Regions from separate parts of the Homo sapiens genome. Here regions 1 and 3 are each linked to region 2. The links come from fine-mapping of genetic effects on gene expression. A gene starts in region 2. Each other region holds a variant in brackets. All regions are shown on one strand. Distances are between the middles of the regions.

Region 1 (10,451 bases), 67 kb before region 2:
ATCTTTCTCCTGTGCTGGATGCTTCCTGCCCTTGAACAGCGGATTCCAAGTTCTTCAGTTTTGGAACTCGGATTGGCTCTCCTTGCTCCTCAGCCTGCAGATGGCCTATTGTGAGACCTTGTGATAGTGTGAGTTAATACTTAATAAACTCATATATATAATTTTTTTCCATTAGTTCTGTCCCTCTAGAGAACCCTAATACAACATACCAAAAAAAAAAAAAACAAAATGGATTAAAGATTTAAAAGTAATACCTAACACTATAAAACTACTAGAAGAAAACATTGGAGAAACACTTCAGGACACTGATCTAGGCAAAGAATTTTGGGGTAGGACCCCAAAAGCACAGGCAACAAAAGCAAAAATAGACAAATGGAATTACATGAAACTAAAAAGCTTCTGCACAGCAAAGAAAACAACAGAGTGAAGAGACAACCTGCAGAATGGGAGAAAATATTTACAAACTATCCAACAAAGGATTAATAACCAGAATATATAAGGAACTCAAACAACTCAACAGCAAAAAAACAAATAATCCAATTCAAATATATGGGTAAAAGATCGCCATAGATATTTCTCAAAAGAAGACAAACCAAGTGGCCAACAGGTATGTTAAAAAATCAAAACAAAAACAGCAACAACAAAAAAACTCAACATCACTAATCATCGGGGAAATACAAATCAAAACCACAATGAGATATCATCTCACTCTAGTTAAAATGGCTACTATTGAAAAGACAAAAAATAACATATGCTGGTGAGATCTAGAGAAAGAGGAATGCTAATACACTGTTGGTAAGAATGTAAATTAGTACAGCCACCATGGTAAACAGTATGAAGGTTCCTTAAAAAACTAAAAATTGAACTACCATATGATCTAGCAATATAAAAGAAGGAAGTCCTGCCATTTGCAGCAACGTGGATGGAACTGAAGGTCATTATGTTAAATGAAATAAGCCAGTCATAGAAAGACAAATATTGCTATGTTCTCATATATGGGAGCTATAAAAGTTGATCTCATGGAGGTAGAGAGTAATACAGGAGACTGGGAAGTGAGGAGGATAAAGAAAGTTTGGTTAATGGGTGCAAAACACACATAGAAAGAATTAAGTTCTAGTGTTTGATAGCACAGGAGGGTAACAATAATTTATTATATATTTCAATATAGCTGGAAGAGTAGTTTTAAAATGTTCCCAACACAAAGAAATGATAAATGTTTGAGGTAATGGATATCCTAATTACCCTGATCTAATCATTACCCATTGTATGTATCAAAATATTACATGTATCCCATAAGATGTATAATTAATTACGTATCAATTAAAAATTTAAAAACTGAAAAAATGAAACAGATGTAAAGACCTTCAATAACTTGCTCAAAGTCAAAAGAGAACCAATGACAGAACCAGACTGAAAGACAGGATGTTCTATTCCAAAGATCTTTTTTGTTTTTTTGCTTTTTCCTGCTTGATTTTTAAGTCACTAAGATTAATAAAGTACGAATAGGATCTATATTTATGTGTGGTACAAATTCAAGTTGTTCAAGCCAAAATGAAAGGGAATATTTATTTTAAAATTTCTCAGATACTGTGCTAGAACTTTCTCAAAAATCATTTAAAAGTCAACATTATCATTCCCCTTTTAAACGTGAGGAAACTGAGTCTCAGAGATGTTAGCCCAAGGCCAGATAGTTTTTAAAACACAGAAGTTGGATTCCATCTGCAAGCATAAAAGCCCATAGGCTTTCCATTATCTAATGCTACCTTCCTAGGATAAATCTGATTTGTCTTTTCTCAAAATAATAGCAATTTGTGGAAATTGCTATTCTTAGTAGCAGAAACCGTTTCAAATTACTTGTTTAGATGAGAATTAAGTAAATGTGCTACCCATTTCAGGTATATCCATTCTTTGACTTACTGAAATTTGTTTTTAATTAATCAGAATATGAAGAATAGCTTTCACTTTTTCTTTGTATTCATGATTGTAATAAAAAGTTCAATTTTGGCTGGGCGAGTTGGCACATGCCTGTAGTCCCAGCACTCTGGAAGGCTGAGGTAGGAGGATTGCTTGAAGCCGGGAGTTCAAGACCAGCCTGGGCAACAAAGCAAGACTCTGTTCTGCAAAAAAAAAAAAAAAAAAAAAAAAAAAATTTTTTTTTAATTAGCCACTTGCGAGGTGGTGCATGCCTGTAGCTCCAGCTACTTGGGAGGCTAAGGCAGGAAGACTGCTTGAGCTCAGGAGTTGGAGGCTGCATTGAGCTATGATAGTGCAGGATACTACTCTAGCCTGGCAACAAAGTGAGACCCTGTCTCAAAAAAAAAAACAAAAGATCCAATTTTATTACTTCTTTCACATATAAAAGGCTAAATGCCATCCAAGGAGACTGGGAAGTTTCCACCAAGGTACTTTATATAGAATGGGGGGAAAAAAGGAAATGTTTCTTAACATTAATGGGTATATTTATGATATCCTCTCATCTGTATTAACTACTTTATAAAAGGTACTGGGCATGATTTGCCCCCTAGAATACAACTTGCTTTAAAGTTCTGCCAACTTTGTAAATTCCTTAAACAGGGATTCATCAATCTACTAAAACAAAAGATCGTATGTAAAGGAGAACTGCACAGATGTTTTACAGCATCAAGCTGTAGATTAAGTATTTACTTTATTACACTGTCTATCACCCAATCTAAGATGATGTCAGGAGAAAAAAATGAAAGCTCTCACATACTCTTGTCAACTGCTATCTACTATTAGATAATTTTTTCCTATGATACACCAGAACTCCTTAGCTGCGCCCTTTCCCCCACCTTGGATAGAAAGTCCAACCACAGTTACTGAAGTATACTAATGTCTCTGCTTTTTACTCCTCAAATGCCAGTTGAGGCAGTTAATGTTCACAATATTACAATAACAGCAATAATAAGTAGTCAGCATTTATCAAGTGCTGATACCCCTTCCACGTATTAACTTATTTAATTCTCACAGCACTATTAAGTAGGTATTACAGCTATCTCTATGTTTACAGTATAAAGACTTAGGCTGTACAAGGTTAAATAGTAGCAATAAACAGGAATTCAAACACAGACAACCTGGCTCCATAGCTGTGCTCTTACCCACCAGTAATTTCATTAATATCCATCCACAAAAACGACCCTACGTTCACTTGCCTTGGTTCTGATCACTAAGAGATGTCTGGGAAGGGTTACATTTAATCCCTAATCATTGTCATATACTTCTCCCTGTATTACCTTCTGTGGGCTATCTTGCCAGCAGGCAAGCTGTCAGGGCTTATTTAAAAAGCAAATAAAAATACACAAAACTCTTCAAGAAGTCCAACTTAGCCTTAACAACATGTAAAATAATTAGTATTATTAATCAAAGGGTAATTATAAGGACTAAATGTACTAATATGTATGGAGCAAACAACAGGAACAGACATGCAAAAGCTCAATAATTAACCATTATGTCATCTGGCTATTACCTAATGCTTCCTTTTCCTTCATATTGCAGCATGTGACAAGGAAAGAATGTATATGCCTATTTGCATTCTTTTACTACTCATCATAGCATATACTCTGGTTTATCATTCTAAAACATAACCCTGACTAAATCATGTGTACAAAATATAAATCAAGGCTACAGCACCATCCTTGTTTACATATTTCTAATAGTTTACTATAACAAGAAAAGCTATGTCATATTTTAAGGCAATTTAAATGCCAAAAATATTAACATAACTTGGTTACTTATTTTAAAAATACCTAACATATTATTGCTATTCATTCATTTGAAATCAAATAAGAGACCATTAAAGAGAACAATCTTATGCTGTACAGACCAGTATTAACTTTTTTTTTTTACTGACGAGACAATTGAGGCTTTAAGAGACGTCAGGTTTTACAGATGGTAAAACCCAGCTTCTGACTTCCAATTCCATGCCCTTTCCACTGCACCACACTCTTTTACGTAACTTGTTAACCACAGGCCAGTATTTTCCTAAGTATGTTCAACAGATACTCAGGGGAAAAAATTAAGTCAAATAAATTGAGAAATGATATTTTCTCTGTCTGCCTCTTAGACAGTCAACTGCACATTATTTGCACTGGAAAATCCTGAAATCATATAACTTGTTTGCCTGTGTCTCACTCAATATTTCCCAAACTGATTTGACTACAAAATCCTTTTATTCTCCTAATACTTATTAACATCATGTAGAGCACACTTCAGGAAATGTTACTACAGAATAAACTATTACGTTTAATAATTTTTTTTTTTTTTTTTTTT[G/TG]GAGAGGTAGTCTCGCTCTGTCATCCAGGCAGGAGTGTGGTGGTGTGATCTTGACTCACTGCAACCTCTGCCTCCCAAGTTCAAGTGATTCTCCTGCCTCGGCCTCCCAAATAGCTGGGACTACAGGTGTGCACCACCATGCCTGACTAATTTTTGTATTTTTAGTAGAGACATGGTTTCACCATATTGGCCAGGCTGGTCTTGAACTCCTGACCTCAAGAGATCTGCCCGCCTTCGCCTCCCAAAGTACTGGGATTACAGGCATGAGCCACCGAGCCCAGCCTAATACTTAATGTAATAATCAGTATAAAGAGCCTATTTCACAGATTTGACAACTCAAATCAAGTCCCTTGAAATAAGTGCCTGGCTTGATACATGGCACATCAAAGGTACTTAATTTAAGAATAAAAAACTATATAAATTAGAAGTTTAATATAAATACTGTCTCCTGACAGCACTGTTATCAAAGCAGTAAACATTTACCAAGTACCAAGTATACAGTAAGACCCTGAAATAATGGCGATATAAAGATAATGATTCTTACTCTCATGGATTAGCAGGGGAGATTAATTATCAAGTCAGGCTGTAATAAGCAGTAGAATAAACAAAATACCACTGTAATACAGAAGTAGAATAATAATTGATATTATAAAAGAGATTGGCTGGGTGACATGGCTCACATCTATAATGCCAGCACTTTAGGAGGCTGCGCTGGGTGGAACATGAGGTCAGGAGTTTGAGACCAAGCCTGACTAACATGGTGAAACCCCGTCTCTACTAAAAATACAAAAATTAGCCAGGCATGGTGACGCATGCCTGTAGTCCCAGCTACTCAGGGGGCTGAGGCAGGAGAATCGCTTGAACCCGGGAAGCAGAGGTTGCAGTGAGCTGAGATCGTGCCACTGCACTCCAGCCTGGGCAACAGAGCGAGACTCTGTCTAAAAAAAAAAAGAAAAAAGAGGAGATTCCCAGGTAATTATTGTTAAATGGAGCAGAATGAATTTAGCTTATATGGAACATCTCAGAATGTTTATATCTAGGATGGTAAAAGAGGATCAAGATCTCTCTGTAGCTTTCCCTGTCTCCATGCAGAAACAATTGCTCCCATTTCAAATTTTTTTCCTCAGTGAATACTATCATACTACTAGGGTCATGTCAAAAAGATTCAGAAGCCAACCTAAATAAGCTCCTATTATTAAGACAGAACAATCTGTCTGACAATGGGAAAGACATTATTATGGACAATAACTCCAACAGGTGGAAACATATGAAATATCTTTAAAGCCATAAGTTCATAATGATAATTAAACAAACAAGCAACACAGTGGTGACCTTTGGAGGATGCTAGGTAACTACAATATTACTCTGTAAACTGTAAAGAGAAAGAATCAAGAAAAAAAAAAAGCGCTATACCACTGCCACAAAAAGAACACACACAACTTTCCCATAGGAGCACTAGCAGGAGGAGATACCTAATCCAGTTTTCAGGGGATTATGAAAGATATCCGTGAGGGGAAGATGCCAGCTTTGAGTTTTAAGGAGCAACTTCAGTTAAAAAAAAAAAAAATTAAAAGCATAAGTGGGCAGTCTAAACACTAAGGTGAAAAATAGCATGGGAAGACTTCAAACAGTTTTATTTGGAGGGATGGTGTTAGAAGGTAAGAAAAGTTGAAGGCTGAAAGGGGTAGGCAATGAGGCTACAAAGCTAACTGGAATTAGACCAGAAAAATCGTTATAGGCCTTGCAAAGAGTTTATACCACATATGAAAGAAAGGCTTTGACGAGTGTTAAAAAGATAAGTGACAAGGTCAAATTTTTGTTTAAGATAAATCACTCTGGTGGATGTGAGAAAAAATATTTAACTGGCACAAGAATGAAAGAGTAATGAAGGTAGGGAGATCACAACAGATTTGAGAAATATTTAGAAGACAAAAGCAGTAACAGAATGGTGACTAGAGGAAAAAATTTACAGGGAACTTTATGTGAGTTCCTGTAACACTTTCAAGGTAATTCTACTGTAGCATTTACCATAAAGCATAATAGTTACTTGTTTACATCTTGGCTCCCCCATGATGCAGAGTTTCCTAAAGATAAGAACTCCGTGGGGCTGGGTAAGGTGGTTCACACCTGTAATCCCAACACTCTAGGAGGCAGAGGCTGGAGGATAACTTGAGCTCAGGAGTTTGAGCCCAGCCTGGGCAACATGGAGAAACTCCATCCCTACAGAAAATTTTTTTAAAACTAAGCGGGGATGGTGGCTCACTCCTGTAGTCCCCAGCTACTTGGAAGGCTGAGGTAGGAGCCCAGGATGTTGAAGCTGCAGTGAGCCATGATCGTGCCACTGCACTCCAGCTTGGGCGACAGAGTAAGAACCTATCTTCCAAAAAAAAAAAAAAACAAAACAAAACAGGGAACTCAGTGCCTGATACATAGTAGGCACATCATAAATGTTATTTAAACATAAATGCGTGTAAATCCTATCAGGACATGATTTTTTGGAAAGAGAAAGTCTTGGTTAAAAAAAAAAAAGTCTTTAATAATCCATGTGTAATAAACTTTAGCTTTAGAACTACACTGAGACCAGGTGAGGTGGACAGGGAAGAAAAAAAAAATCTTTAATCCTAAAAATCAATCTCTATAGGTAAAACTAAATGTACTGAATTTTCCTTATATGAAATCAATGTAAGGAGGTTCTACCTAGTAATTTACTCCTTGGTTTTCTACCAGTAAATAAAAATGAACCATATAATAAAGTGTCACAGTGGACAAAACAGCAGTAATTAGAAATACACCCTGCTGCCTACCATTTTGAGATTGGAAAAATAAGACGTCATTCCTCTGATTCCCCAAAGCTGTAAAAGAAGTACATTTTAATAAGGCTACCTTACTAACTAGCTCTTTATATACCATCCTACTTCATTAGAGATTACACTATCCCCCTTCTCCACAAACTAGGTAAACCAGAACTCTTTGTAATTCGAATCCATCACAGGGGTAGAGAAAAAGACACCAAAAACAGAAAGCAAACTAAAGCAAGACTTCACTTAAAATGGCCAGGCAAATATATGCCAATAAGGATATTGATTCAGGGCAAAAGTTCAAATGGGAAACTTTTAGGTTGTATATCTTCAGCATTTTATTCTCTGTGAATCAATCCTTGGTGCTGAATCTACAGCTTTTATTTGAATAAACTCTATGGTCCATTAGGCAAAGAGCAATTTAGCTTCTAAGTTTACCTGTTAAATGGCATTTATGTCATTCTTTGTAGAACTGTAAACATACAGCAGGTTAACTACAGTGTTTTAGTCACTCCCAGGCCTTTCAAAGTTGGTACATTTGCCTAATTTTAGGCTGCCAACAGTAATCTACTACTTTATTTCACCATCATGTCTGTTGCTATGGTTAAAAATAAACTGACTGCAAGACACTTGGAATATAACCGGCAAATATTATATCATTGATGAACATCTCTGTTTTAAACCTATTCATCAAAAAATGAAAAAGATTCCAGGCTAGTTTTCCAGTAAGTCATAAAATATTTTTCTTTCCAATACCCCACAGGTATAAGAAGCTTTATTCAATAAAGAACTTCAGCTCTATTCAAATAGCATCATTTCTTGGATCTCCTCATACCTGTGTAAACTACTACTTTAATTTTTAGGTGCTGTATCTGGCAACCGCTACAGGCCAATGATTGCTTCCTTTTAACGGAAAAACTATTCCTTTTATCCAAAAAAAGTCATAAGCAAATGACTGCAGTATTTCAAATAAATTATATACTATATAGAAATTCCTAGTCTTGATGTACCAAGGTATTTGCAAAACAAAAACCAAAAACATTCTATTATGAAACACTTAACTTCTAAAGAGAACAAATATAAAATAAATGTTAAAAATGTAGAAATGTATGTATTATAGTGCCTTAACACTGTAAAAAAGACATTTCAAAAACCTTAAAGAATTTTCTACTGATAATGTTTTTATGAACTCAGTACTTTTATACTAAGGAGAACTATAGATGGATCCCCTTGGAGTCTATAAACATTACTGTGTAGAAGCCTAAAAAGGTACTGCTAGGGAAGAGTGAAAGGTATTTTTTTCTATTTTTCCTTCTTTTTTTTTTTTTTGAGATGGAGTTTCGCTCTTGTTGCCCAGGCTGGAGTGCAATGGCACGATCTTGGCTCACTGCAACCTCCGCTTTCCAGGTTCAAGCGATTCTCCTGCCTCAGCCTCCTGAATAGCTGGGATTACAGGCATGCGCTACCACACCCAGCTAATTTTGTATTTTTAGTGGAGACGGGGTTTCTCCATGTTGGTCAGGCTGGCCTTGAACTCTCAACCTCAGGTGATGCACCTGCCATGGCCTCCCAAAGTGCTGGGATTACAGGCATGCACCACCACAGCTGGCTAATTTTTGTATTTTTAGTAGAGACGAGGTTTCACCATGTTGGCCAGGCTCTTCTCAAACTTCCGGCCTCAAGTGATCTGCCCACCTTGGCCTCCCAAAGTGCTGGAATTACAGGCATGAGCCACTGTGCCTGGCCTATTTACCTACAATTCTGCAAACTGATTAAACAACAAATCAAGATAAGGCTAAACTGAGAACTCACAATAAAGGACAGATCTATCACAATGTATTATAACCAAAGTCATAATAGACAATAACCACCACAAATCAGGAAAATATTAGAAAATGGTCATTTCTACTCTATTTGCAGTGTTAAAGGAAAGAGTCAAAAGTAAAAGAAAATTTGATCATTTAAAAAAAAATACCCAGAAAATTCACCACGTAGGATAGTGCATTCCTCAAAATTACCATGTAGAATTAAGTGTAAGATATAACTGAAACTATATCTGCCTTTATAGCTATCTATTCTATCCACTTTTTAATGCATCATTTGTTTTGTTCCTTCCTAAAACACCCCTCTTTACCATGAAAACAAAGTACTTCAAAGGATCCCAGATAAAGAATGACACACCCTAAGGAAAAAATTGTGTTAGAAATTAAAGCAAACAATAAAAATAAATAAATAAAAATAAAAAAAGAAATTAAAGAATAAGGGAGAGAGCAATTAAATGTAAGTACATAATTTTCAAAAATACAAAGGAAAACTGACCACTTCTAATGGTGTTTTTCCATTTTAACTGATATAGAAATGTCCAATTTAAGAGAACAATTAAGGCCAGGTAAGGTGGCTCATGACTGTAATCCTAACAATTTGGGAGGCCGAGGTGGGAGGATAACGTGAGCCCAGGAGTTCGAGACCAGCCTGGGCAGCAGAGTGAGACCCCATCACTACAATACACAAAACAAAAAATTAACAGGGCATGATGGCACGTCCCTATATGGGAGGCTGGGGTGGGAGGATTGCTTGAGCCGAGGAGGTCAAGGCTGCAGTGAACCGTGATTGTGCCACTGCACTCCAGCCTGGGTAACAGAGTGAGAGCCTGCCTCAAAAAAAAAGAGCAATTAACAAAAACCTTTAATTTAACATTTGATTAATAACAACAGTCTATATTTAGCAAAAGTGAACAGAAGGGAGAGGAAGTGCTATAGCAGTATTTATTGAATACCTACTATACACCAAGCACTGTACTTGGTGTTTATATATGTTGTGTCATTTAATCATCACAGCAATTTTAAAAGGATTCTTATCTCAATATTACAGATAAAGAAACCAAGGCTTAGGAAAGTTAAGAAACTCACCCAAAGTTGCTAAATAAAAATAAAACCAGCTAACCTAGGACAGCCAAATATGTCCTCTAGTACATAATCACTTTAAATTGTTGTGTATAATTAGCCCCAAATACAAAATCCTGTAGCCTCAAAGACAGGAATGGCTTTTCGGTAGCCTGTAGCAGTTATAGAAAAAATAATATTCTCATACATTTGATTTCAATAAGAGTATAAATTTTTTAAACTGCACATGTCGACTCAACTGCTCCAATTTTATAACAAAAACAACAGATTAATATTTTATACACATCTAAATGTAAACTTTTATATTCAATGTTTTTTGGTCCCAATAGAGACAATCAGCATTTTAAGAGACAATCAATAATTTATCACAAAGTAGGTTTGACAATCCTCCAAGATTAGGACATTGAGAAATATACACTCTGGTTTAACTTACATGCAGTTTTTTAAAAGTGAAAGAATGTTA
Region 2 (10,451 bases):
ATTTAATTCTTAAAATCTCGCAAAGTAGGTAACTCCATTTAAAGAATAAATAAAACTGAACCTCAAAAATATTACATAATGAGTCCAATGTCACACAACCAGTGATGGCAGTATCAGGACTTGAACCTAGGTCTACAGAGCACCAAAACTTGTGCCACCTAATTTTCATAAATTTTCTGGTATCTGTAACAAATCCTATACAAAAGGTCTTACAAAAGTACTTTCATTCATGCAACAAATATGAATGCCTACATGTCTTTAAAATTTCTGTAGATATACTTTTAACAGCCCCTTTCTTGTACTGTTTTTGCAACTGGAAAGCTGCATACTATGCACTTTTCCCTTTACTTCCTCTCATTAAATGTCAAATTTAATCATGTTATGATTATTATCAGGTAGTGGTTCAGCCACAGCTATTTCCTGCCCCAGTTCCTGTTCAGTACCCAGAATAAAATCCAGCATATTTTCATTCCTAGTGCTCTAAAACTACCTGTTCCAGGAAGCAATCAGTTGTTCTCATCTGAAAACTCACTTCTATATTTTGTGTCACATTAGCAATTTTCATGAGAATAACAAAGTGGACTAAAAATGCAGTTTTCCTAAATGTCACTTAATATTTTCCACTTAGTCATATGATTCTGGTCATCAAGTGATGTTTCAGATTTGTAAATTTAACGTATTTATGGTTTGGTATTAATCTGAGAAGAAGATAGAAGCACGAGACTTTCTCAGATTTTCAAGGGCAGTCCCAATTTAAAACACACTGGCCAGGAGTGGTGGCTTATATCTGTAATCCCAGGACTTTGGTAGGCCAAGATGGGAAAATCACTTGAGGTCTCTAGCCTGGCCAACATAGCAAGACCCTGTATGTACAAAAAAATAAAAATTAAAACATTAGCTGGACACAGTGGTGCATGCCTGCAGGTCTAGCTACTCAGGAGGCTAAGGCAACAGGATTGCCTGAGCCTGGGAGTTCAAGGTTACAGTAATTACACTACTGTACTCCAACCTGGAAGACAGAATGAGACCCTGTCTCAAAATAAAAAAACTCTGTCCCACTATCATGTATCAAGTAGGGATTAAGAAAAGACAGTCAAAATATATGCAAAGGGGAGTTCACAATAATGACTCCATGTGGCTACAGGCTAGGTAAAGGGGTTAAGGGATGGCAACCATCATTTTGGAATTCTTCTTTGAGTCTTAATTTGAACTGGGAAAGTAAGTATTGGAAGGTGAATATTAAATAAACATGTAATAATGGACAAACTGCTGAGGTTTTCCTATAATTTTAGTATCTAAGTATGCAATTTCCAATTATCAAAATTGGGTAGTACTCACTTTGCCCAACCACATTTACATACCATTATCATTTAAAGCTGGCCTTCACACATACATTTTATACAAAGCTACAATTACTTACCATTCCCTAAACAATCCATATTTCTGTTCTGAGACTCTGCCTCTTCCTGTTCTGCATGGAATGCCCTCTTTCTCCACCTACAAACACCACCTTCAGACCTTTAAGGCTTCAGTGGTAGCTCCCCTGAAACCCAACTAGTTCTCTCTTAAAATTATTTATTGTTTCTTTTGTATTCACTGCTTTCTATGTGCCCGTACTTTATATATTTTATTTAAGGCTTAATGTCTTCTTTGAAGTATTGCCCTTTCCATTAAACAGATAAGGAAACTGATGCTAAAAGAGGTTTGGTGTTATGTTCAAAGTCACAAAGCCTGATAGGAATTCAAATCCAGACTGTCTATACTTTAACTGAATTCTTGTCTCAAGAATTATTGGGACCACAAGCATTTTGGATTTTGGATTTTGTAATATTTGCATATACATAAAGAGATATCTTAGAGATGGGACTCAAGTCTAAACACAAAATTCATTTATGTTTCATTTACACCTTATACAAATAGCCCAAAGGTAATTTTATATAACATTTTAAAATAATTCTGTGCATGAAGCTAAGTTTTGACTGTTTTTTTGTTTTGTTTTGTTTTTGTTTTTGAGACGGTGTCTTGCTCTGTCACCCAGGCCAAGTGCAGTGGTGCGATCTCGGCTCACTGCAACCTCCACCTCCTGGGTTCAAGCGATTCTCCTGTATCAGCCTCCCGAGTAGCTGGGACTACAGGTGCATACCACCACGCCCGGCTAATTTTTTTTGTATTTTTAGTAGAGACGGGGTTTCATATTGGTCAGGCTGGTCTTGAACTCCTGACCTCAGGTGATCCACCCGCCTTGGCCTCCCAAAGTGCTGGGATTACGGGCGTGAGCCACCGCACCCAGCTTGACTGTAACCTGTCACATGAAGTCAAGTGTCTTGTGGCATCATCTTGGCACTCAAAAGGTTCCAGATTTTAGAGCATTTCAGATTTTCAGTTTACAGATGCTCAATCTGTATATATTGTATTATCGTCATTTGTTCAAATATCTATTTCTCCCATCAAATGAATGCTCCTCAAACACAGAGAAGGTGACTCCATCCCTTTATCTTCAGCAAAATCCAACAGTGCCTATTATACAATGATCTCAAAGTGTTACTGTGTACAATAGTGGATTCAATTTACGGTTTTGCAGTGTTATTTTCCACTGAGTAGTCTCCTACTATAAAGTCTCCAAGAAGCCAATTTTATTGTGGTAATAAAGTATAATGGCTTGGAATGTAGGCTTTGGAATCAGACTGCTTAGGTGTGAATCTCACCTCTACTGACTCATTTGTGAAGAAATCTTGAACAAATTAGTTAAACTAAGTCTTGGTTTGCTCATCTATAAAATGACAGTAATCAGTACCCATCTCACAGGACTAAAATGATTAAATAATATACAAGTAGTCCAACTATTTTCGAGTTTCATTTTATCCACATGACACCCTAAATTCTCTTCAGTTTAGTGAAGGTTTTTTTCATTACATATTCCTTGCAATTTTGCATTAAATGGACCAGCCAAAAAAAGTTCATGGTTTAAAAATTGGGTGGGCCACCTTCTTCATTTTTAGGGCCAACTGTCCAGTGCCAGTTTGGGCTCAAAAAAAGTTTACTCTTGGAGGCTTGACTATCTATGCAAGAGTGCCCCCATTGTATACTATACTTGTTTACTCACCACATTTTCATGCTCCACCAGAAAGTGGTCAAAATTGGAACACGAAAACTCTCCACCTCACTAACACCTAACTTAAAACTATCAGATGCATTCAGACAGCCAGTCTGTGTGGGAGGCAGGCTATTTCTGGGGCAAAAATATTTCCTGGAACCACTGTTTCTGGCCCCAGACATGGCTCATTCTCCGCAGACCTCCAGATTCCTCTCCTCTACGTTATGGAGGTGGAGCCACTACAACTGATAACGCATATCCATTTCCTTCTCTTAAAATTTGCAGTCCATACACCATATCCAAGTTAGGATTTCAAATTGTTATACTGTTTTGTGACTCTTTAGGCTAAAGTGTGCAGTTTCCAGACTTTCAGAATTCCCCTTCCAATATTAAAAATATGGTGAAAAAAGCCCAGTTTGAAAGAAAATAAACTTTACAAAAATACCTGAAAACAAGATCAAATACTAAGTCTCTTGCCAAAGTCTTGGAGAAAAAAAAAATGAAAGAAACGTTTAAAAATGGCAAAAGCTAACCAAAAACCTTAAGATTAAAGTATCACACCTGAAAAGTAGTCTCAAAGCAAGGAGGATATACTATTAACAAAGAAAGCAACCGAAAACTACAAAATATTTAATATTCACCATGAATTTCAAAATTACTTGGCATGTAAAGTACACACTGAGATTAATAAATTGTTCCAGATTCTGCACTGCCCAGGTTAGTATAAGGCAGTTCCTTGTTTTCGCCACGCTAAAAATAAGAAGGGTGACAGATTAGTGACAGAATGATCCCTGAAGTTACACAAGGAGGTGCTGAGTTAGAAAGCCATGACTCGAAGGACAATACCAGAATGCTGGCTGTCAACACTGGGCAGATAAAAATAAGAAAAGCTGAAGCATGCTGATGGAGCACGGTATTGTTTCCAGACGGGAACTATCCCTTAAGGCCCATGCCTTAAGCACCCACTCCGCCGTGTTGGGATCAGAAAACTCGACTGCCGCCTGCTCAGAGGGGGCAGGGCAGCGACCCTCCTTCCACCTCCTCCAGCGCGCGAGCCGCCGCCCCCTCCCGAGCCCGCTCCTCCGGCCGCTAGCTGACATCTCCCCGCCAGCCGGGCTAGCCACCCGAGACCCCTGAACGCCCTTCCAGGACCCGACGACCCCTCAGCACAGCGCCAAGGGAAGGAAGCAAAGGACAGGGGCCTGGAAGCGGGGCCCGAGGGGCGGGTGGCGCGCTGGGCTTCGGCCCGTCACCATCAAGACTTGAGGACCGCGCGAGCTCGGGAGGAAGGCGGCTGAGCCTCCGCCACCGGCCGACTGATGAGAAGGGGTCGCGGCTGACCCCGGCCCTCAGGTACGGGAGACTGCCGGGAAAGTCGCCGGCGACGGAGGGCGACGCGTTGGCCCCGGAGCCCCCACCTCCATCCCGACGACCGCTCTCCTCCCTCGTCCCGATCCATCCTCGAAATTCTGTCAGAACTCGACGACCTCCACACTGCCCACCCGAGCGCGGAGGTGATGCCGCTCTTACCGTAGGAGCGAGCGCCGCGCCGCTAGGAGGCGGCTGAGGTGCGCGCGGGAGACTCCGAAGCTAGCGCCGCCGCCAACAGAGCCCAAGGAGCCACAACGAGGCTGCCCGCGGGCGCGCTGCCTCCAGAGGGTTGCCCCACCCCCTCTCCCGCAGGATTTTGCGCCGGAGCCTGCAGTCACTGCGCGCGGGCAGGGAGGATGGGAGGAGGGGCGGGGCGTCCCGAGAGGGCGGAGCTGAGCGCCGGCTGCTCTGATTAACATCTGTGGGCCCAATGGGAGCACGGAAACTCCAGGCTGATCTTGGACTGACTTCCCTACTAACCCGTGACAGTAGAGAGGCGGGACCAATGGGTCTTTTTATTGCCGCCTTTCTGTCGAACCCGAAAGTAAGGAAAGGTCGGTTGGTTTGCACTGGCGGACAAATGGTCCAATTACCGCGGAAAAGGGACCTCTGAATCCAGATTGGCGTCCTCTCTACCTATAGGGTAGGCTCAGGGGCGGTGAGAACCAGCCCCGGATGTGGGCGCGGCACTGAGGTAGAACTGAGAGATCCTCTACCGCAGTCGTTTGAGGAGGCGGAACTGAAGTTTTTTCTTAATTATCATGTGACGGGTTCTGGATTTAATGGGGGGAAAAGGGCGGAAAAGGACAAGGATCCAAACTGGCGAATTTGCTGATCTTCGCGTCCCTCTCCGCTTTCCGGCCGGCAGCGCTGCCAGGTGAGTCTGGGGCTCTGCCCTAGCCCGCACCGTACGCCGGCGCTGGTCTCCTGATGCTTCCGTGGGCTGTGCGGCCGACCCTCAACCCATCACACAGCCAGCCCCAAACGCGCACACGCCTGCTTGGCTCCAGGGCTTCTGTGCGCATCCAGCAGGAACCGTGTTAAACTCCAGCATGTGCTGGGCTTACAGCCCATGAAAGGGGAGCGTCCCGGTGGGGCGCCGCGAGCCGACTGTCGGTGTTTGCAGAAGGGCAAGTATAGTTTAGGAGCGTCCTGAAGTTCCAGGGGCAAATAGGCCCCCAGATGAGCTAAGTTGTAAGCAGAACGCTGTTCCTTTGGCCAAGGCTGTTGCTGCACGGGCTTTTCAAAAGCGACTCATTATGAAGAAGAATAAATATGTGGGCTCATGAAGCAAAATTATCTTTGGGATGAGGCAGGTTCACTTGGTAGACTACTGGCAGTGGCGAGAGAAGGGAAATGGGGGCTGATACCCAGCCGTGGGCTATGTGGGTGGGGCTCTATATATGTCCATACAGGGGTAACTCCGAAGGTTTTAAAAATGAGTAAGGAATCATTAACAAATATTTAACTGTCTTCCTAGTGCCAGAAATAACCACCTTAAATGGGAAACATTTTAGTTGAGCACATTTTTGGAGTACGCACCTCCCCCTTTCTTGTGGAGAGAATAGTAGGAAACATAACGACTGCTCAAATTGATGAAGACGTAAATGTAAAACTGGGATCGTATGTCATCGTTGTAGCTCAGCATACAGGCGTACAATCCTTCAATCGTCATTTAAGTATCAGCAGTGCTTCCCCATTGAGGGTATTTCCGTGCAAGAACATAACAGAATTTTGTTGCATCCCACATTATAAATCTTGTAGGCACAATAAGATTGTTACTTGCATCCTTTCACCTCCAGCCCTAAAGCACCTGTGGTAAGTACAGCCAAATGTAAGAAAAAAATGAAGCTTGTCTTATCCGATAGCAGATGGAACAGTTAGGTTTAAGCAAGTGTATAATCATAAACCGTTTTTCAGAGGTTCACAAAAACGGCCTGATAGATTGGAGGTGGGGATTGTGCAATTTACGGGATGAAATCCATCCATGGTTATTAATCAACACACACCCCTCCAACCCTGCTTCCAAATTCAGTCCCACATCCCACTCTATGGCAGCCTCTGGCCGGGAAAGGAAACCAACACAGAAAAATGCCTCCTTAGAAGCAAAATTACTGCAGTATGAAGCCTTTGCCAATTAAGTAAACAAGTTTAAGTGCCACTAGATGGGTATAAGGGAAAAGAGGTGAGTTAGGAGACTAATACTTAACTGTTGAAATAGAACAGATGTGTCCTCTTGCACTGTGATAGCCACCCACTATTTAAAGTAGTAGAGATGTTGCACAGTACATCAAAGTTAGTTCTAAAATATAATTGAGCACGCTAATCTAGGGTATTTGGCTCAATTAGCCAGTTCCTTCACCTTTTCCCTGTTATCTTCCTGCATCTTTCCTCCTACCACGCATGCTTTTGTTCCTATCCCTAGCACCTTCTGATCTTTTTCTCTTTCCATCAAGTATCCTCTCTCATCTTCAGTGTCATTCCCCATTGGCTTATTTCTGTTTATAGTCATAAATTCTTCCTTTCCTGAAAATTTCTTCTTTCAGTTTCATATACCCTATCTTTCATTTTTCTCTTCTCCAAATGCCTCAAAGGAATAAAATGTTCTCAATTGTTTCCATTTCTTGGTCTTCTGTTAACTCCTTACCCAGCTGCATGCAGTCTGGCTTCTGATTTCCCATTCTACTTATCCTTTTTCCAAGTGGCCATAAAGGTTGGTATAAAAAACTTAAGTAGAGGAACATATCATAAACCTATATGTGAAGATTAAATATAATAAATGCTATCCCAAGCTAAGTTTTATGCATTCATAATCAAAATTCTAGGTTTTCAAGAATCAGCAAATTTAGCATTGAAAAACTGTAAGGGCAAAATAGAAAATATTCTAGAAAAGAGGCCGGCGTGGTGGCTCAAACCTGTAATCCCAACACTTTGGGAGGCTGAGGTGGGTGGATCACTTGAGGTCAGGAGTTCGAGATCAGCCTGGCCAACATGGTGAAACCCCATCTCTACTAAAAATACAAAAACTAGCTGGGCGTGGTGGCGCACACTTGTAATCCCAGCTACTTGGGAAACTTAAGTGGGAGGATCACTTGAACCCGAGAGGCAGAGGCTGCAGTGACCTGAGATCGTGCCACTGCACTCCAACCTGAGTGACAAGAGTGAGACTCCGTCTCAAAAAAAAAAAAAATTCTAGAAAAGAGAACAACGAGTAGATACTAGGCCTTCCAGATATTAATACATTCCTAGAGCAACACTAAGTCATATAGTATTAGTGCAAAAGAGAAACATATAGATCAATGAGGCAGAATAGTGATATAAGAAATAGCCCCCAAAATTTAGCATCTAATAATCACAAAACATCAAAAGTTTATTAGGTGGTCCTGATTATTGAATGGATAACAAGTAGCTTAAAAAAATACATATATACACCACCAATCAGTGAGACTATTGTTAAAAGGAAAAAAACTATTATACCAAGAAAGATATTTGTAAGAATTTTTATGAGAAAATAAGTGAGAATTTAAGAATATGTTTCAAATTATATGAAAATCCAGTGTTATCAGTGCCTTTTATATTATATAGCCCAACAACCTCTTTACAATCTTTTTTTTTTAGACAGTGGTCTCACTCCCATCGCCCAGGTTGGAGTGCAGTGTGCAACGGCTCACTGCAGCCTCAACTTCCCGGGTTCAGGTGATTCTCCCACTTCAGCCTCGCGAGTAGCAGGGAATACAGGCACGTGCTACTGCACCTAAATTTTTTGTATTTTTAGTAGAGACGGGGTTTCGCCATGTTGCCCAGACTAGTCTTGAACTCCTGGGCTCAAGAGATGCACCTGCCTTAGAGTCCCAAAGTGTTGGGACTGTGGGTGTGAGCCACTGCACCCAGCCACTAAAATATTAATTCTACTTTATATTCTTGTGATTTTTATTAACCATTCCCTCCTTTTATTGATGGATTGACTGATTGAGACAGCATCTCACTCTTTTGCCCAGGCTGGAGTGTAGTGGCATGATCTCACGGGGCACTCACTGCGGCCTCGACCTCCTGGACTCAAGCAATCCTCCCACTTTAGCCTCTCAGTAGCTGCGACTACAAGGTGCATACCACCACGCCTTGCCAATTTTTTTATTTTTTGTAGAGGCAGGGTTTCACTCTTGCCCTGGCTGGTCTGGAGCTCTTGGGCTCAAATGATATGCCTGCCTTCTCCTCCCCAAATACTGGGATTACTGGCATGAGCCACGCACCCTTCCCATTCCCTTCTTTTAAAACTCTCTCTCTTCTCAGCTTGATACCCACCTTTCACTTTTTCACTACTTTGAATGCTTTTTTCTTTGTACCCCTTGAAATTGAATTAAAAATTAGATTTGCAAATGTATAGGAAGATTAAGAACATCTTTGAGGTGCAGGAATAAAGTTGTAAGTGCCTGGACTCGAGTGATAGCACTGAAAAGGAATCACCTGACATTTTGAATAGAGCTTATACAGTAGATATAATAAAAATTGTATTTTGTCATGGGCTGTAAGGAATGGTGGATATAATGTCAATGATCACTAAGTTTTAGAGGATTTGAAAGGAAGAATAGTAGAATGTTTTCAAAATTAGGAAGTCAGTTGGGAAAGAACCAGTTTTGTTCATTAGGAATGGAAGTGATACTTTTTTTCTGGTATCAAAACAATCTTGACTTTTTCTCCTTCTCTTAGGGTATATTTCCTTTTTTCCGATCCTGCAACAGCCTCTTTAAACTGTTTAAATGAGAATGTCCTTGGCTCAGAGAGTACTACTCACCTGGCTTTTCACACTACTCTTCTTGATCATGTTGGTGTTGAAACTGGATGAGAAAGCACCTTGGAACTGGTTCCTCATATTCATTCCAGTCTGGATATTTGATACTATCCTTCTTGTCCTGCTGATTGTGAAAATGGCTGGGCGGTGTAAGTCTGGCTTTGACCCTCGACATGGATCACACAATATTAAAAAAAAAGCCTGGTACCTCATTGCAATGTTACTTAAATTAGCCTTCTGCCTCGCACTCTGTGCTAAACTGGAACAGTTTACTACCATGAATCTATCCTATGTCTTCATTCCTTTATGGGCCTTGCTGGCTGGGGCTTTAACAGAACTCGGATATAATGTCTTTTTTGTGAGAGACTGACTTCTAAGTACATCATCTCCTTTCTATTGCTGTTCAACAAGTTACCATTAAAGTGTTCTGAATCTGTCAAGCTTCAAGAATACCAGAGAACTGAGGGAAAATACCAAATGTAGTTTTATACTACTTCCATAAAACAGGATTGGTGAATCACGGACTTCTAGTCAACCTACAGCTTAATTATTCAGCATTTGAGTTATTGAGATCCTTATTATCTCTATGTAAATAAAGTTTGTTTTGGACCTCATTTTTCTACATGACTCTTGAATAATCTGTTGTATGTGGTCAATATCTAAAGTAACTAAATATAAAACCTTTAACCTACATGTTTGGGCCAGGCGAGGTGGCTCACACCTGTTATCCCAGCACTTTGGGAGGCTGAGGCGGGTGGATCACTTGAGGTCAGGAGTTCAGGACCAGCCTGGCCAACATGGTGAAACCCTGTCTCTACTAAAAGTACAAAAATTAGCCAGGCATGGTAGCGGGCGCCTGTAATCCCAGCTACTTGAGAGGCTGAGACAGGAGAATCACTTGAACCCGGGAGGTGGAGGTTGCAGTGAGCCAAAATCACACCACTGCACTCCAGCCTGGGCAATAGGACTAGACTCCGTCTCAAAAACAAAACAAAACCTACATTTTTTAATAGAAGTTTAATATACCATGGCTGTATTATGACCAAAGTAAATGGCCATTTGTGTTTCTAAATTATGAAGGAAAAAAAACCTGAAACAGGGATGCCACTTCGTATTTACATTTAGAAAGAATCTGAGTTTGACAGATTTTTATCTAGGCTAAATTCACTATTACCTCTACCTTCTGGTTGGGACAAA
Region 3 (10,451 bases), 75 kb after region 2:
TTTAAAAAATTACCACACATGCATGCTGTCACAGGAAGTTATTTGAGGGTGTGCTCAAGTAAACTAGGGAGTAGTAAACAAAGGAAGACAATGTGAGATCGGAGGACCCAGCATAAAAGAGCAGATGAGAATGTATTAAAATAAACACTGTGCAGATGGCTCAGCGGATAACTAGTTCAGGCTGAAGTACAAGAATGGAGCTCTTAAAAACAAGACCTCCAGAAACAAAGGGGGACCTGACAAATTTTCTCTTATCACAGAACACAGAGAATAGAGAGAAAATGAAGCAATGGATACATAAGTAAATGAAAAAGAGAGGCAATTTTTAACTACACAAAAATGAAGAAAGCCATATAAAAGGATCTCTCCCTGATCTGCATTAAACAGCATTTGCAGAGTCATTATAAGCACTGACTATTGTTTTAACTAAGGTATGTGGAATTATTAAAAAGGAAAGAAGCTAGGTTATAAAAGTGGTCATTCTGGCCAGGCTCAGCGGCTTACACCTGTAATCCAAACACTCTGGGAGGCTCAGGCACGAGGTGTACTTGATGCCAGGAGGGTAAGACCAGCCTGGGGAAGAAAGTGAGGCCTTGTCTCTACAGGGGAAAAAAAAAAAAAAAATTTGTTTTTTAATTAGCTGAGTAAGGTGGGACAGGCCTGTAGTCCCTGCTACTAACTGAGCCACTGCATTCTAACCTGGGTGACAAGCGAGTCTGTCTTGAAAAAAATACTAAAAATAAAAATAAATAATAAAAGTGACAATTCTTATCTAAACAAGAATGCACTATATGTCTAAAACTAACTAAAAAAAAGTAGTATGAGCATTTTATTCAGAAACTTGGAATTAAAAGCAGATGGGGGGCTGGGCGTGGTGGCTCACGCCTGTAATCCCAGCACTTCAGGAGGCCGAGACAGACAGATCACTGGAGGTCGGGAGTTCGAGACCAGCCTCACCAACATGGAGAAACCCCGTCTGTACTAAAAATATAAAACTAGTTGGGCGTGGTGGCACATGTGTGTAATCCCAGCTACTCAGGAGGCTGAGGCAGGAGAATCGCTTGAACCTAGGAGGCGGAGGATGCAGTGAGCCAAGAGAGTGCCACTGCACTCCAGCCTGGGCAACAAGAGCGAAACTCCATCTCAAAAAAAAAAAAAAAGCAGATGATGGCCAGGCACAGTGGCTCACACCTGTAATCCCAGCACTTTGGGAGGCCAAGGCGGGTGGATCACGAGGTCAAGAGATTGAGACCATCCTGGCCAACATGGTGAAACCCCATCCCTATTACAAATACAAAAATTAGGCCGGGCACAGTGACTCACACCTGTAATGCCAGCATTTTGGGAGGCCAAGGCGGGAGAATCACTTGAACCCAGGAATGTGGAGGTTGCAGTGAGCCGAGATCGCACCACTGCACTCCAGCCTGGGCAACAAGAGCGAGACTCTGCCTCAAAAAAAAAAAAAAAAAAAAATTAGCTGGGTGTGGTGGCACGCGCCTGTAGTCCCAGCTACTAGGGAAGCTGAGACAAGAGAATCGCTTGAACCCGAGAGGCAGAAGTTGCGGTGAACCTAGATTGCGCCACTGCACTCCAGCCTGGGTGACACAGCAACGTTCCGTCTCAAAAACAAAAAAAAGTAGATGGGATACTAAACGAGCTGAGGAACACGAAATCAGTAGGGAAAGCTAGGGACACTTCTTACTATAAATTTTTCGATATTTTTAAATTAAATTTTGTTTTTAAAATTTACAGTTATTGTCTTCCTCCCCAAAACCCTAAACTCCAGTCTAATCATGAGGACAACATCAGACAAATCCCAGTTGGGAGACGTTCCACAAAATACCTAACTGGTACACCTCAAACAATCAAGGTCATTAAAAGCGATGGAAGTCTGAGATACTGTCTCAGCCAAAAGGAATCTAACGAGACATGATGATTAAATGTAATACAGTATCCTGGATGGGATCCTTGAACAGAAAAAGGATATAAGACAAAATACTAAGGAAATTCTGAATAAAGTATGGACTTTAGTTAATAATAATGCATCACTACTGTTTCTTAACTATGATAAACGTGCTAGAAAAATGTAAGATGTTAATAATGGTGTATGGGAATTCTGTACTACCTTTGCAACTTTTCTGTAAATCTAAAACTACTCTGAAATGAAATGCTTACTAAAAAACTTATAAAGGCAAAACTTAATTAGAAATACAGACAGATACACATGTATATGTATGTGTATATAAATTTAACAATATATAACAGAAGCGCTACAAGACACACTGTTAACTAAAAAAAAAAGCAGGTTACAGAAAAAGGCATATATATAGTATATTTAGGTTTTTAAAAATAAACTAGATAATCTTAGCCAGGCGCAGTGGCTCTTGCCTGTAATCCCAGCACTTTGGGAGGCAGGCGGATGACCTGAGGTCAGGAGTTCCAGACCAACCTGACCAACATGGAGAAACCCTGTCTCTACTAAAAATACAAAATAAGCCGGGCATGGTGGCGCATGCCTGTAATCCAGCTACCTGGGAGGCTGAGGCAGGAGAACTGCTTGAACCCAGCCTGAGCAACAAGGGCGAAACTCCATCTCAAAAAATAAAATAAAATAAAATAGTAAACGATATAATCTCTTCTGTGAGTGTGTGTTTACATATGTACATATGTAAATGCACAGAACACTTAAAAGGGCTTACCCCTGGCCGGGCGCCATGGCTCATGCCTGTAATCCCAGCACTATGGGAGGCCGAGGCAGGTGGATCACCTGAGGTCAGGAGTTCGAGACCAGCCTCGCAAACATGGTGAAACCCCGTTCATACTAAAAATACAAAATAAGCCGGGCATGGTGGCGCATGCCTGTAATCCAGCTACCTGGGAGGCTGAGGCAGGAGAATCGATTGGACCCAGGAGGCAGAGGTTGCAGTGAGCAGAGATCGCACCACTGCACTCCAGCTTGGGCCACAAGAGCAAAATTCCATCTCAAAAAAAAAAAAAAAAAAAAAGTGGGGGGCTTATCCCTAGGGAAGAAAGAAAAAGAACTTCTGGTTTTTATTTCATTTACTTCCTAAATTATTTGAAACTTCTGCAAGAGAAAGGGATTTGTGGCCGGGCGCAGTGGCTCATGCCTGTAATCCCAGCATTTTGGAAAGCCAAGGCGGGTGGATCACCGGAGGTCAGGAGTTCAAGACCAGCCTGGCCAACATGGTGAAACCCCGTTTGTACTAAAAATACAAAAAATTAGCCAGGCATGGTGGTGTGTGCCTATAATCCCAGCTACTCGGGAGGCTGAGGCAGGAGAACCGACTGGACCCGGGAGGCGGAGGTTGCAGTGAACCGAGATTGCACCACTGCACTCCGGCTTGGGCCACAAAAGCGAAACTCCGTCTCAAAAAAAAAAAACAAAAAAGAAAAAGAAAAAAAATAGGGGGCTTACCCCTAGGGAAGAAAGACAAGGAACTTCTGGTTTTTATTTCATTTACTTCCTAAATTATTTGAAACTTCTACAATAGAAAGGGATTCATGGCCGGGCGCAGTGGCCCATGTCTGTAATCCCAGCACTTTGTGAGGGCAAGGCAGGTGGATCACCTGAAGTCGGGAGTTCGAGACCAGCCTGGCCAACAGGGTGAAACCCCATCTCTACTAAAAATACAAAAATTAGCTGGGCATGGTGATGCACGTCTGTAATCCCAGCTACTCAGGAGGCTGAGGCAGGAGAATCACTTGAACCCAGGAGGCACAGGTTGCAGTGAACCAAGAGCGCACCAGTGTACTCCCACCTGGACAACAGAGTGAGACTCTCAAAAAAAAAAAAAAAGAAAAAAGAAAAAGAAAGGGATTCATATATTATGTATTATTTGTACAATCAAGTTGGTAGCCTAACTCTCCTTCCCGAAAGAATTAATAATTATGTTCAGATACATACTTTTTTAAAGATTTAGAATCACTCAGTATATTAGAAGGAGATACAAGAAAAAAAAATTCAAAGTAAAACACTGAATATATAACATAATATGTACTCACATAAACACATTAAAAAAAGTTTCCAAAGGTCTCCCTCCATTAAAACTGTTCAAGTGCTGTTCTACCTCACTTGATATATATTATCTCGATGTTATGCTATAGTTAATCAAGAGGAGAAAAAAAGGAGAAAATTAGAAATAATTATAAGCTGGTGCAAAGGCTCATTCATGCCTGTAATCCTAGCACTTTGGGAGGCCAAGGTGGGAGGATAGCTTGAGCCCAGAAATTCAAGACCAGCCTGGGCAACACAGAGAGATCCTGTCCCTATTAAAAAAAAAAAAATTTTTTTTTTGAGACAGAGTTTCACTCTTGTGTCCCAGGCTGGAGTGCAGTGGCGTGATCTCAGCTCCCTGCAACCTCCGCCTCCCAGGTTAAAGCAGTTCTCTTGCCTCGGCCACCCGAGTAGCTGGGATTACAGGCATGCTCCACCATGTCCAGCTAATTTTTGTATTTTTAGTAGATACTGGGTTTCACCATGCTGGCCAGGCTGGTCTTGAACTCCTAACCTTGTGATCCTCCCACCTCGGCCTCCCAAAGTGCTAGGATTACAGGTGTGAGCCACCACGCCCAGCCAAAAAAATTCTTTTTAAATTAACTGGGCATGGTGGTACATGCCTGCAGTCCCAGCTACTTGGGTGGGTGAGGTGGGAGGATCGCTTAAACCCAGCAGGTCACGGCTGCAGTGAGCTGTGATCATGCCACTGCACTCCAGTCTGGGCAAAGAGTGAGACCCTATCTCAAAAAATTAAAATTAGAATTAAAAAATAAATTATATATGTATTCTGAATATGCATACACACATACATTATTTATTAGGCTTAACAGTTTTTAAGAAAAAGAAGCTATACTTTTACTCAACCACAGATTTTGATGTATAGGAAATTCTTTATATAGGTTCATTAATTTTTTTAAGAAATTACAGCATCATAAAAATCCACACTGGAAGTTCTTAAGAAATGTTGGCCGGGCGCAGTGGCTCACACCTGTAATCCCAGCACTTTGGGAGGCCAAGGCACGTGGATCACTTGAGGTCAGGAGTTTGAGCCCAGCCTGGCCAACATAGTGAAACCCCATCTCTACTAAAAATACAAAATTAGCCAGGCGAGGTGGCGCATGCCTGTAATCCCAGCTACTCGGAAGGCTGAGACACAAGAACCGATTGAACCAGGAGGCGGAGGTTGTGGTGAGCCGAGATTGCACCACTGTACTCCAGCCTGGGTAACAAAGCGAAACTCTGTCTCAAAAAAAAAAAAAAAAA[G/AG]AAGAGAGAAAGAAATGTTAGAATTTCATACTACAGCTTTCAGTCACAATATATTGTTGCTGCACAAACATCAAACAAGCTTCACACCATCACAGTTTTGCCTGCCCTGAATATGAGCCATGAGCCATAATTCACACCATAATAACGCAGTCCATGAAATCAACTGAACTGAACGACAACAATGACATTCCCCACCTTCCCTCTCTTACATTATTCCTTCCAGGAATAATGTATGGCTAGAAATAGATGAGAGAACAAGCAGCGGCAGAAGAAGAGAAATGTAAAGAATTTGAAGCAGAAGGAAAAGCAGTTACATTACAAAATGATTACAATTACATACACTAAAATAAAAATTGAAGGAGATGAAGGATACAGTAAAAAGAAGAGAAAGGACTTCACAAACAGTAAATGGGAAAGAAGTGATTTATCACAGCCCCTCGCTAACACAGCTAATCAAAGCTAAAAAATCCAGTGGCTTCTCAGCCCTTTTTTCCGTGGACCTCACTGCAACATAACAGTATCAATTCCTTCTCAAAATTTCTCCCTAAGTTTCACTGAAACTGTACTATCCTACCTGACTCCTCCCTCATTCTCATAATCCCACCATCCAAACCTGCACATTTACCTAGGATCTCTCCTAGGCATTCCTCTCTCTTCTCTATATTGCCTCTAAAAATGCACTCACATGATGTAAACTATAACCCTGTGGCAAACTAATCTCCAAATTAATCTCCCAACCCAACCCCTCTGCCAAACTCCACATCTTCATCTCCATAATATTTAACACCAAAATATCATCTTTCTAATATAAAAAAGTTCAAGTTCTCCTTCCAATTCTCTATGTTAATGGCACATCCTCATCCAACATCCAAATACAAAAAATTTTCAGTAACACTAATAATACTTCTTTCTTCAATTTTCCCCTAACACTAAATCACTTGACCAGTTCAGTTTATACTTCGTTAAAATATTTCCATCTTTTTTTCCCTTTCCAGAGTCACCACCTAGTGTATTCTCACTAGCTTTTAAAAGAAAGGGTTTCCGTACCTATAGTTTCTTTCCTTTCCACCAAGTAAGCACAGTGACCAAAAAAGATTCCTTAAATGTATAGTTTACCATGTCACTATCTTCTGCTTAAAACGAATGAATAAACCAACTCAGCTTACCTCTGCCTATCTAAAAACAGAAAACTCCCATAATATGTCATTCAAGAATCTTCAGTTAAGACTCACCTTCTTTTAGCCTTTTCTTCAACTATTCACCCACATATATAACAAGATTCCGGATTACTTGATTCATCATTACTCAAATGTCTTACTCCAATATTTTTACTAATATATCCCTTAGCTAAAATGCGATTGCCCATCCCAATTCCTCCTGCCCAAATCCTACACATCCTGTAAGATTACGGTGAAATTTAGCTTCTTCCACTAAGCACTCCTTGATGCCCATGATCACAAATGATCATATCCTCCTCCTCCCTCTTCTATAATTTGAATTCTGATTTTTTGTATAACTGCTCAATCTGCCCTCCTGGTTTCTAAGCTCCTTTGCAATTATCATATCTTGCTCTTTGCTACCTTCTGTAGAACCTAGAATGGTGCTTTGCATATAAGTGATGCTCAATGTGAATGAAGTTTCCAGGAGGCAAAAGATTTAAGTAAAAAGAAGGAAATTACTATTGATAAGCATTTGAAGGCAATCATAGAAGACAAAAAAGCAATACACAGAAAAAAAAAAAACAAAATTACCAACAATGAGCAGTGTCTTTTACATTGCAGCTATTTATCTCTCCAATTAAATTAAAAATTATCTCAAGGCAAGAAACAGAAAGTTCTCCTCTTTGTATCTCCCTTTCTTCCACCACCACCCAAGCACAAAGCGGGCCATAAATAAGTGTTAAATCCACATAAGAAAAAAAGCAGTAGGCTGGGCACGGTGGCTCACCGCTGTAATCCCAGCACTTTGGCATGCCGAGGCAGGCAGATCACTTGAGGTCATATGACCAAAATGGTGAAACCCCATCTCTACTAAAAATACAAAATGTAGCCGGGCAAGGTCGCCCACGCCTGTAATTCCAGCTACTCAGGAGGCTGAGGGATGAGAACCTGGGAGGCTGATGCTGCAGTGAGCCAGGATCACACCACTGCACTCGAGCCTGGGTGACAGAGTGAGACTCTGTCTCAAAAAAAAAAAAAAAAAAAAGAAAAAGAAAATGAAAAAGAAAGAAACCCCAAATGTATTGTGATATAATAGAAATAATTCAGGCTTTGTAATTATACATATTAAGCTCAAATTCTAGCTCTGCCAATAACTGATCAAGTGACATGAAGCAAGTTACTTAACCGTGTTGTGCCTCAGTAATCTCATCTGTATAGATAATAACACTTGTCTTCTGCAATTTTTTTTTTAACGGAGTTTCGCTCTTGTTGCCCAGGCTGGAGTGCAATGGCACGATCTCAGCTCACCGCAACCTCTGCCTCCCGGGTTCAAGCGATTCTCTGCCTCAGCCTCCCGAGTAGCTGGGATTACGGGCATGCAGCACCACGCCCAGCTAATTTTGTATTTTTAGTAGACCCGGGGTTTCTCCATGTTGGTCAGTCTGGTCTTGAACTCCCAACCTCAGGTGATCCACCCACCTTGGCCTCCCAAAGTGCTAAGATTATAGGCACGAGCCACCACGCCCAGCCTTTTACAATTTTTATAACAAGGCAACATATGCATTATTTCCAACACTATGCACAATACCTAATTTTAAGCACTGGACAAATGTAGCTATTATTATTAAATATAAACAGAATTTTATTACAAAAGCACCCAGTAACAAAGAGTTACAAAAATACTACAATAACAATAGTCACAAGAACACACAAAGAGTAAGAGGAAAATAAAAAAGGACACATACAGCTGGGAACAGTGGCTCACACCTGCAATCCCAGCACTTTGGAGGACAAGGTGGGAGGATGGCTTGAGGCCAGGAGTTCAAGGCCAGCCTGGACAATATGGCGAGACCCTTTCTCTACGGAAAATACAATAATTAGCCAGGCACAGTGGTGCGCACCTATAGTACTGGCTACTCAGAAGGCTCAGTCAGATGGATCACTTGAGCCCAGGAGTCTGAGGCTGCAGTGAGCCATGATCACACCACTGCACTCCAACCTGAGCAACAGAGTGAGACCTTGTCTCTAAAAAAAATTTTTTTAAATACATATATACATAAAAACCATGCCAGGCATAACATGATAAAGTGGCCTGTGAAAAATTTTAGCTCAGGTTTTCCTCACTAAACTATCAGAAAAGATTGGTCTCCAGAGCAGAAATAAAAGCATTTCGTCTGTTCTCAACATATTATAAAACCAAGATATGAAGTACTAAGATATTGTAGGTGGTATCTGGTTACAGAATTAAATCACTTTAAATCACTGAATCGTGTGTCTATAGCTACTATATCAAACGTGATTGTTTCACATATATACAACCTGGGGCATTCTTAGACCTCTAAGTCCACATTATACAATTACATTATTTATTACAATTTAAATTATACTCTGTAATGCAAATGGTAAATCATATACATAGTTCTTAATGATAACAATATGTGTGGGCATATGTAACTATGGGAACCAGACTCTCGTTGTACTTGTTATATACTCTTAGTTACACTTTTTCACACAACCAATTAAAGTTCTACATTTTTTAAAAGTTGTATATTTAGCTAACATCATTAGATACACACCTACAGATGCTTTATCAATCTTAATTCAATTGGAATGTGCTCCAAGTGAAATTTTCCAAAACACACATACATTATGTGCCCTAATGTATGTGCAGTGAGAAATTGGTTCAGACTTCCAAAGCTAAGTCATAAGAAGACTTGCTGTTTCCACCTATGTCGCTGGGTGTCAAGACTCTTGGAGTCCTGAGCTGCCACGTAAGAAATCCAACTTCCTAATTAACAGACCATGTGGAATGGTCCTGAAACAACTTGGAGAAAGAGAAGGGTTCACTCAGTTCAGTATCTAGCCATACATAACACAGCAACAGGCACGTGAGTAAAGTCATCTTGGACCTTCCATACCAGACCAGCCACCAACTCAACACCAATGAGCAACTCCAGTCAACACTGCGTGAAGCAGAGGAAATCACCCAGCCAATCATGCCAGAATTTGTGATTCACAAAATCATCTGATATAATAAAATGGTTATTGTTTCAAACCACAAAATTTTAGGGCAGTTTGTTATGCATTAAGAGATAATTCAGCCTTCACAAAGTCTTATTATAGATAATGAAAAAGTTGTTTTGTTTAAGTATATACAAGACATGCACTGACTCTAGAAAAATGTTAAAGTAGAAAACTGTCTTACAAAATACACTGATGGGCCAGGTGCGGTGGCTCACACCTGTAATCTAGCACTTTGAGAGGCCGGGGCAGGCAGATTGCTTGAACCCAGGAGTTTGAGACCAGCCTGGCAAACATGATAAAACCTCATCTCTATAAAAAATACAAAAAAATTAGCCAGGTGTGGTCGTGCACTTGTAGTCCCAGTTACTCAGGAGACTGAGGTGGGAGGATCAACTGAGCCCAGAAGTTGAAGCCGTGATTGCACCAGTGCCTACCAGCCTAGGCAACAGTGAGACTCAGTCTCAAAAAACATAAAACAAAATACACTGATATATTAAAATCAAGAAGTGAAGGGCTAAAAGAAAAAAGGCTTAATATATAATGTCAGAGCTATAAACACAATCAAACGCCTTGAAATTATTTCCTCCCATAACTTCTGTGACATTGTAGAGCTCGCTTTTCCTATCTAGCTGCCATGAATATTAGTTCATATAATGTTCTCTCTCCCCACAACTCCTTTATCTCTTTGCTGAAATCCTACCATACTGCCCTTTCAAAGTTTCTCTCAAATATCTCCTCTCCTACATCTCTTCTCCCTTTCTTTTCTGAGACACAGTCTCGCTCTGTCGCCCCGACTGGAGTGCAGCAGCACGATCTCGGCTCACTGCAGCCTCCGCCTGCCAGGTTCCAGTGATTCTCCTGCCTCAGCCTCCCAAGTAGCTGAGATTACAGGCACACAGCACCACGCCCAGCTAATTTATATATTTTTTAGTAGAGACAGGGTTTCACCATGTTGGCCAGGCTGGTCTTGAACTCCTGACCTCAGG

Evidence for each region.
Region 1: its variant is fine-mapped to the expression of TMEM60 in whole blood (INTERVAL, PIP above 0.99).
Region 3: its variant is fine-mapped to the expression of TMEM60 in whole blood (INTERVAL, PIP 0.94).

The regions. Positions count from the first base shown.
Region 1 is chr7:77,860,021-77,870,471 of GRCh38, reverse strand. The region is part of intron 2 of PHTF2 (putative homeodomain transcription factor 2); the gene reads right to left. Among named protein-coding and RNA genes, the nearest start is that of PHTF2, 66 kb to the right of the region's middle. The variant G/TG (reference allele first, on the strand shown) is at 4,288.
Region 2 is chr7:77,793,145-77,803,595 of GRCh38, reverse strand. TMEM60 (transmembrane protein 60) reads left to right here and starts at 5,162. Exons shown (of 2, transcript NM_032936.4): 1 at 5,162-5,342; 2 at 9,173-9,868. The coding sequence starts at 9,223. The coding sequence ends at 9,624. PHTF2 (putative homeodomain transcription factor 2) reads right to left here and starts at 4,823. Exons shown (of 19, transcript NM_001395272.1): 1 at 4,625-4,823. RefSeq lists a silencer at 4,743-4,882 and an enhancer at 5,293-5,402.
Region 3 is chr7:77,717,799-77,728,249 of GRCh38, reverse strand. The region is part of intron 1 of RSBN1L (round spermatid basic protein 1 like); the gene reads right to left. Among named protein-coding and RNA genes, the nearest start is that of RSBN1L, 27 kb to the right of the region's middle. The variant G/AG (reference allele first, on the strand shown) is at 5,282.